Linked DNA regions of Homo sapiens: region 1 is linked to region 2. The links come from fine-mapping of genetic effects on gene expression. Tissue or cell type: whole blood. Region 2 holds a variant in brackets; the other region holds the start of a gene. All regions are shown on one strand. Distances are between the middles of the regions.

What was found. PIP is the estimated chance that this variant, and not a neighbour inherited with it, causes the effect.
Region 1: it holds the start of SELENOM, and the variant in region 2 is fine-mapped to the expression of SELENOM in whole blood (INTERVAL, PIP above 0.99).

Annotation. Positions count from the first base shown.
Region 1 is chr22:31,106,466-31,109,145 of GRCh38, forward strand. SELENOM (selenoprotein M) reads right to left here and starts at 1,103. Exons shown (of 5, transcript NM_080430.4): 1 at 912-1,103. The coding sequence starts at 1,040. It overlaps LOC105372995 (a long non-coding RNA gene), which reads right to left. Exons shown (of 3, transcript XR_938163.3): 2 at 1,606-1,638; 3 at 1,171-1,421. It overlaps LOC124905100 (a long non-coding RNA gene), which reads left to right and starts at 1,417. Exons shown (of 2, transcript XR_007068063.1): 1 at 1,417-1,643. RefSeq lists an enhancer at 1-559.
Region 2 is chr22:31,047,991-31,050,670 of GRCh38, forward strand. No RefSeq gene overlaps it. Among named protein-coding and RNA genes, the nearest start is that of SMTN, 32 kb to the right of the region's middle. The variant A/G (reference allele first, on the strand shown) is at 1,194.

The sequences.
Region 1 (2,680 bases), 58 kb after region 2:
AGACCATGTGGTTGCTTCCCTGACATGGGAGGATGGGAGGGCTCCTCCCTGCCTTCCCTGAGGAGATGCCACCATCCAGCAGGAGTCTAGACCCCAGGACCACCCACTCCAGCCCTCCTCCATCCTACCCTCAGCCCTTTTCTTAGAGACAGGGTCTCACTATGTCCCCCAAGCTGGTCTTGAACTCCTGGGCTCAAGCAATCCTCCTGCCTTGGCCTCCCAAAGTGCTGGGATTACAGGCGTGCACCACCGGCACCCAACCATTCTACACCCTTTTGTCAGACAGAGCTGACAAAAAGCTCAGAGGCGGGCTGTGATGGTCAAAGTCACATAGCAAGACAGGGACTCCGAACGGGAATTTCCTGGTTGGGGGAGGATGGGAGGCTGCTGCAGAGTAAATGTTGGCAACCAAGTTCCCAACTCGGTTGCCCCTCCGAGTTGGCCCCCTTCCCCGGATCCTGCATATGGGAGGAGGCACCCAGAAAGTCTTCTTTCCCCCCAGGAGAAGGAAAAGAGACTTTCTGGAGCCTCCAGCCCTGGAACCGGGTCGGGGGGGAATTCCAGGAAAACATGAAGTGATGGGGGATGGGAAGTTGGGACAGGATTGGGAGTCATAGGCCACGAGAAGAGTTAGGAGACTGCGTCAGTGTGTCTGGGTGTCCGCTGTCGGACCGGGTAGGGGGAGCTGGGGAAGGGTTCGGAGTTCCAGGCCCCAAAGTCGGTGTCTCAGGCTTCCACGGTGGATGCTGGGGCCATCTGGGGCTAGGGAACAGGAGGGATGGTCCCGGCGCCAGGGGGAAAGCAGGGAGACTCGCGGTTCGAGGTGGTCTTGGGGCCGGGACGGACGGTGCTCCCATGGGGCCGCAGGGTTGGGGAACGATAGTGCCGGGGCTGGAGGCCGGCGTACTCACCTCTACCCGGGCGCGGGTTAGGCCGCTCAGACGGTTCCAGTCCGGCCGGTAGGCAGTGGCGGCTGTGGCTGGGGCCACAAGCGCCGCGAGAAGCAGCAGCAGCGCCAGCGGAGGCAACAGGAGGCTCATCGGGACCCGGCCGCAGATGATGCGCAAGCTGGAGGCGAACCTCCGAGTCGCTGCGCCACGTCTGGGCCCCCAGGCTGGCCCCGCCCCCGCCCCCGCCCCCACTCCCGCTAGAGGCCCAGTCCCGCTGGAGACCACGCCCCCAGCGCTCGGTCTCCGCCCCAGGACTCCCCGCCGTTACCTCCCGCTAGCTCAGGGCGAGGTCCTGGCTCCTCCCTGGCGTTTGGGCCGTCACTTTCCCAGGTCCGAGAGTGTCGACGCTCCTTTTGTCGACCGAGGATGTGGACGCTCCCCCAGGATGCGGCCAGGCAGCGCCACCTCACGCCGGCAGAGGGTGCCGGCGAGACGCTGAGGGACACTGGAGTTTCTGAGCCGAACCTGCGACTTTAAGATAGGGAAACTGGTAGGACATCCAAGAAAAAAAAAGGAAAGAAAGAAAGAAGAATAAATAAGGGAAACTGGCTTTCTGAGGACTCCTCGCTTTGGAGCGTGGGAGATGAGGAGTGAGGTTCGGTGGAGGGGGTGCGGCTTCTGGGAGCCACTGAGACCTACCAGCGTGTCTTCTTACCATCCACAGCTACTGCTGAGCAGACTTTCTGACCTGGGGTGAGGAAAGGAATTTGCTATTCAAAGGTGGGAAAATGCAAGGAGGGTTACAGCTGATAGGCCACAACAGGGTCTTAAATCAGCTGGGTTAAATTTATGGAGTCAGGATTTACTTTTTTTTTTAATGTGGCTATCCAATTCAATTAAAAATCTTGTCTTTTTCATTGCTACTCTGCCGCGTTACCTCTGTTATATATAAATAGGCAACCACGGCCGGGCGTGGTGGCTCACACCTGTAATCCCAGCACTTTGGGAGGCCGAGGTGGGTAGATCACTTGAGGTCAGAAGTTCGAGGCCAGCCTGGCCAACATGGTGAAACCCCATCGCTACTAAAAATACAAAAATTAGCTGGGCGTGGTGTGGGCGCCTGTAATCCTAGCTACTTGGGAGGCTGAGGCAGGAGAATCACTTCAACCTGGGAGGCAGAGTTTGCAATGAGCCGACATCCTACCACTGCACTCCAGCCTGGGCGACAGAGACTGTCTCAAAAATAAATAAATAAATAAATAGGTAACCATATAAATATATGGGAGTCTACTTCTGAATATCATACCCTATTCTAGTCCTTCAGTGGGTTTGTCTAACTACGCTGTCTTATTAACTATAGCTTTATAGTCAGACTTGACATCTGGTTGTGTGTTGGTCCTCTAGCTTTGTTCTTTCTTTCTTTCTTTTTTTTTTTGAGACGGAGTCTCGCTCTGTTGCCCAGGCTGGAGTTCAGTGGCCTGATCTCGGCTCACTGCAACCTCCGCCTCCCGGGTTCAAGCAATTCTCCTGCCTCAGCCTCCCGAGTAGCTGGGACTACAGGCACGCGCCACCACGCCCAGCTAATTTTTTTGTATTTTTAGTAGAGATGGGGTTTCACTGTGTTAGCCAGGATGTTCTTGATCTCCTGATCTCATGATCCGCCCGTCTCAGCCTCCCAAAGTGCTGGGATAACAGGTGTGAGCCACTGCGCCTGGCCCATTTTTTTTTGTTTTTTTGTTTGTTTGTTTTTTTGAGACAGAGTCTTGCTCTGTCAGCCAGGCTGGAGTGCA
Region 2 (2,680 bases):
GTCCAATTAAACCTCTTTTTATTCCCAGTCTTGGTATGTCTTTATCAGCAGCGTGAAAACAGACTAATACACACACCTATGAGTTTTACATCAAGATCATGTGCCTTCCTCTCAGGCCATTCAGCTTTGTTCATAACCTCCAGTCACCATGGCCCACTTCAGACTCCTCCTTCCTGCTTCAGGGCCTTTGCCCATGACTTCCTCTGCTGGATCTCAAGTCAAAGTGCTCAAGACACCCTAAACTTTTCCTCTCAGAGCTAACTCCCAACTGACAATAGTGATTTGTGTAGTCATTCACATGATGTTTTCTTCCTCCAAAGCACCATTGAAGACATTCCAAAAAGCGAGACAGGCACAGTGGCTCACACTTATAATCACAGCTATTTGGAAGGCCAAGGCAGGAGGATTGCTGGAGCACAGGAGTTCGAGACCAGCCTAAGAAACATAGTGGGACCTTGTCTCTACAAAAAAAATAAAGAATAAAAAAATTAGCCAGGTGTGGTGGTGTATACCTGTTGTCCTAGCTACTCAAGAGGCTGAGGCTGGAGGATTGCTTGAACCTGGGATGATCACTTGAGCCCAGGAGGTGAAGGCTGCAGTGAGCCATGATCACGCCACTGCACTCCAGCCTGGGTAACAGAGTGGGACCCTGTCTCCAAAAAAGTTAAAAAGAGAGAAAAAGCGAAAGGAAGTGAGTGGTTGGTATTTATGGACCAAGTCTGAAAACAGCACATGTCCCTTCTGCTCACATTTCATTGGCTGGAATCAGTCACATGGCTCCCCTAACAGCAAGGGAGGCTGGGAAATGTGGTCTAGTACAGTGTTGAAGAGGACGATGTGGACCACAGTGGGGTAAGGTGATTCCTCAAAATGAGAAGAAAGGGGTGATGGGGGCCTGAACAGGCAAAAGGCCCACTATGCACTCCACACGGCCTCCATAACCCCACCCAGGGAGGGGAAGGCATGTCTCCTGGGCCTCCTTCTGCCTTTTCCTGTGGATGGAAAACTCATTAGTGGTCAGCCTCTGGAGCAGATACCGCCCAGAGGCCCCTGATGATACCTCTACCCATCAAAGGCTTCTTACTGTGAATGTAACTGCTTGACTGTGTTGTTCTGACCTCAGGAGCACACTTGGGCCTGTCCTCTGGCAAGCGGGAAGGCTGAGTTCCAGAAGCATCCCTCAACCAGTGAAG[A/G]ATGAGAAGTTGGTGGCTAGATACTCCAGCTGCCTCTTGCTCCTTGGTTGGGATGACTGTCTCTGAGCTTTCCCTAGTGGGGTTGAACTCCAGTTGCCTATCGAAGTGTGCTTTCAATTCATTTATTGAATTTATTGGCTGCTTTCCTTTCCCCATCTCACCTCCCCACTCCCCTGCAGGGGATTCCCTGGGATCACCTCCCAGACAGATTACTTGAACTTAAATACTTCTCTTAAGACCTGCTTCTGGGAGGACCCAAACAAAGGCAGCTCCACAAGGGCAGGGACAAGGGACGGTGATGTGGACTCTTCTCCCCTACCTCCTGTCTTGTGCTTCATGCACATGCAATCGTTCTTTTTTTTTTTTTTTTTTTTTTGAGACAGGGTCTCGCTCTGTTGTCCAGGCTGGAGTGCAGTGGTGTGATCTCGGCTCACTGAAGCCTCAACTTCCTGGGCTAAAGCAATCCTCCCATCTCGGCCTTTCAAGTACCTGGGACTACAGGCGTGTGCCACCATACCTGGCTAATTTTTTGTAGAGATGGGGTCTCACTGTGTTGCCCACACTGGTCTCAAACTCCTGGGCTCAAGCGATCAGCCCACCTTGGCCTTCCAAAATACTGAGGTCACAGGTGAGAGCCACTGTGCCTTGCCAATCATTCTTTTTATTACTGTTTATAAACACACAAAATACATGTCGATGGGTTGGTCATCTTGGCTAGAACTGCTGCAGACTTACCAGGGAGAGGACCTCACGCACTTGGGGAAAAAAAGCCTTGGGGGATTTATCTACTCATCCTGTTTCTTTCCCACACACAGGAAATCCTGGGCAGGCAGAGCTTCCTGACCCAGGGGGAGCTGGTAGCAGCACTGGGTCAAGAATCGCCTCCTCCTGAAAGGAAATGTTTGGGTGGTCCAAGGGAATCCACACTGCCTTCCTCACAGCCTGGAGAAAGGGAAAGTTCAAAGTTCTGGATTCTAATCTCCACTCTGCCACTGGTCTCCTGTACTATTCTAGGCTGTGCCTTCCCCACCCTTGGGCCTTAGATTCCCATCTGTGAAGTACAGAGATAACAGAATAAATGTGCTGTAGGGTATCTTAGAATTGCTACATTCTGACTTTGTGCAATGGCTCATGCCTGTAATCCCAGCATTTTGGGAGGCTGGGATTACTATCTCAGACTTTCTGTGGGTCAGGTATTGGGAATGGCTTAATTAGGTAGTTCTGGCTCAGAATCTCTGAGTTGATTTCTGCCCAGGTTTTTTTGTTTTTTGGGGTTTTGTTTTGTTTTGTTTTTTTGAGACAGGGGCCTGCTCTGTCTCCACGATCTCCGCTTGGTACAACCTCCACCTCCCAGGTTTAAGTGATTCTCCTGCCTCAGCCTCCGGAGTAGCTGCGACTACAGGTGTGCGCCACCACACCCAGCTAATTTTTGTATTTTTAGTAGAGATGAGGTTTCACCATGTTGGCCAGGCTGGTTTCAAACTCCA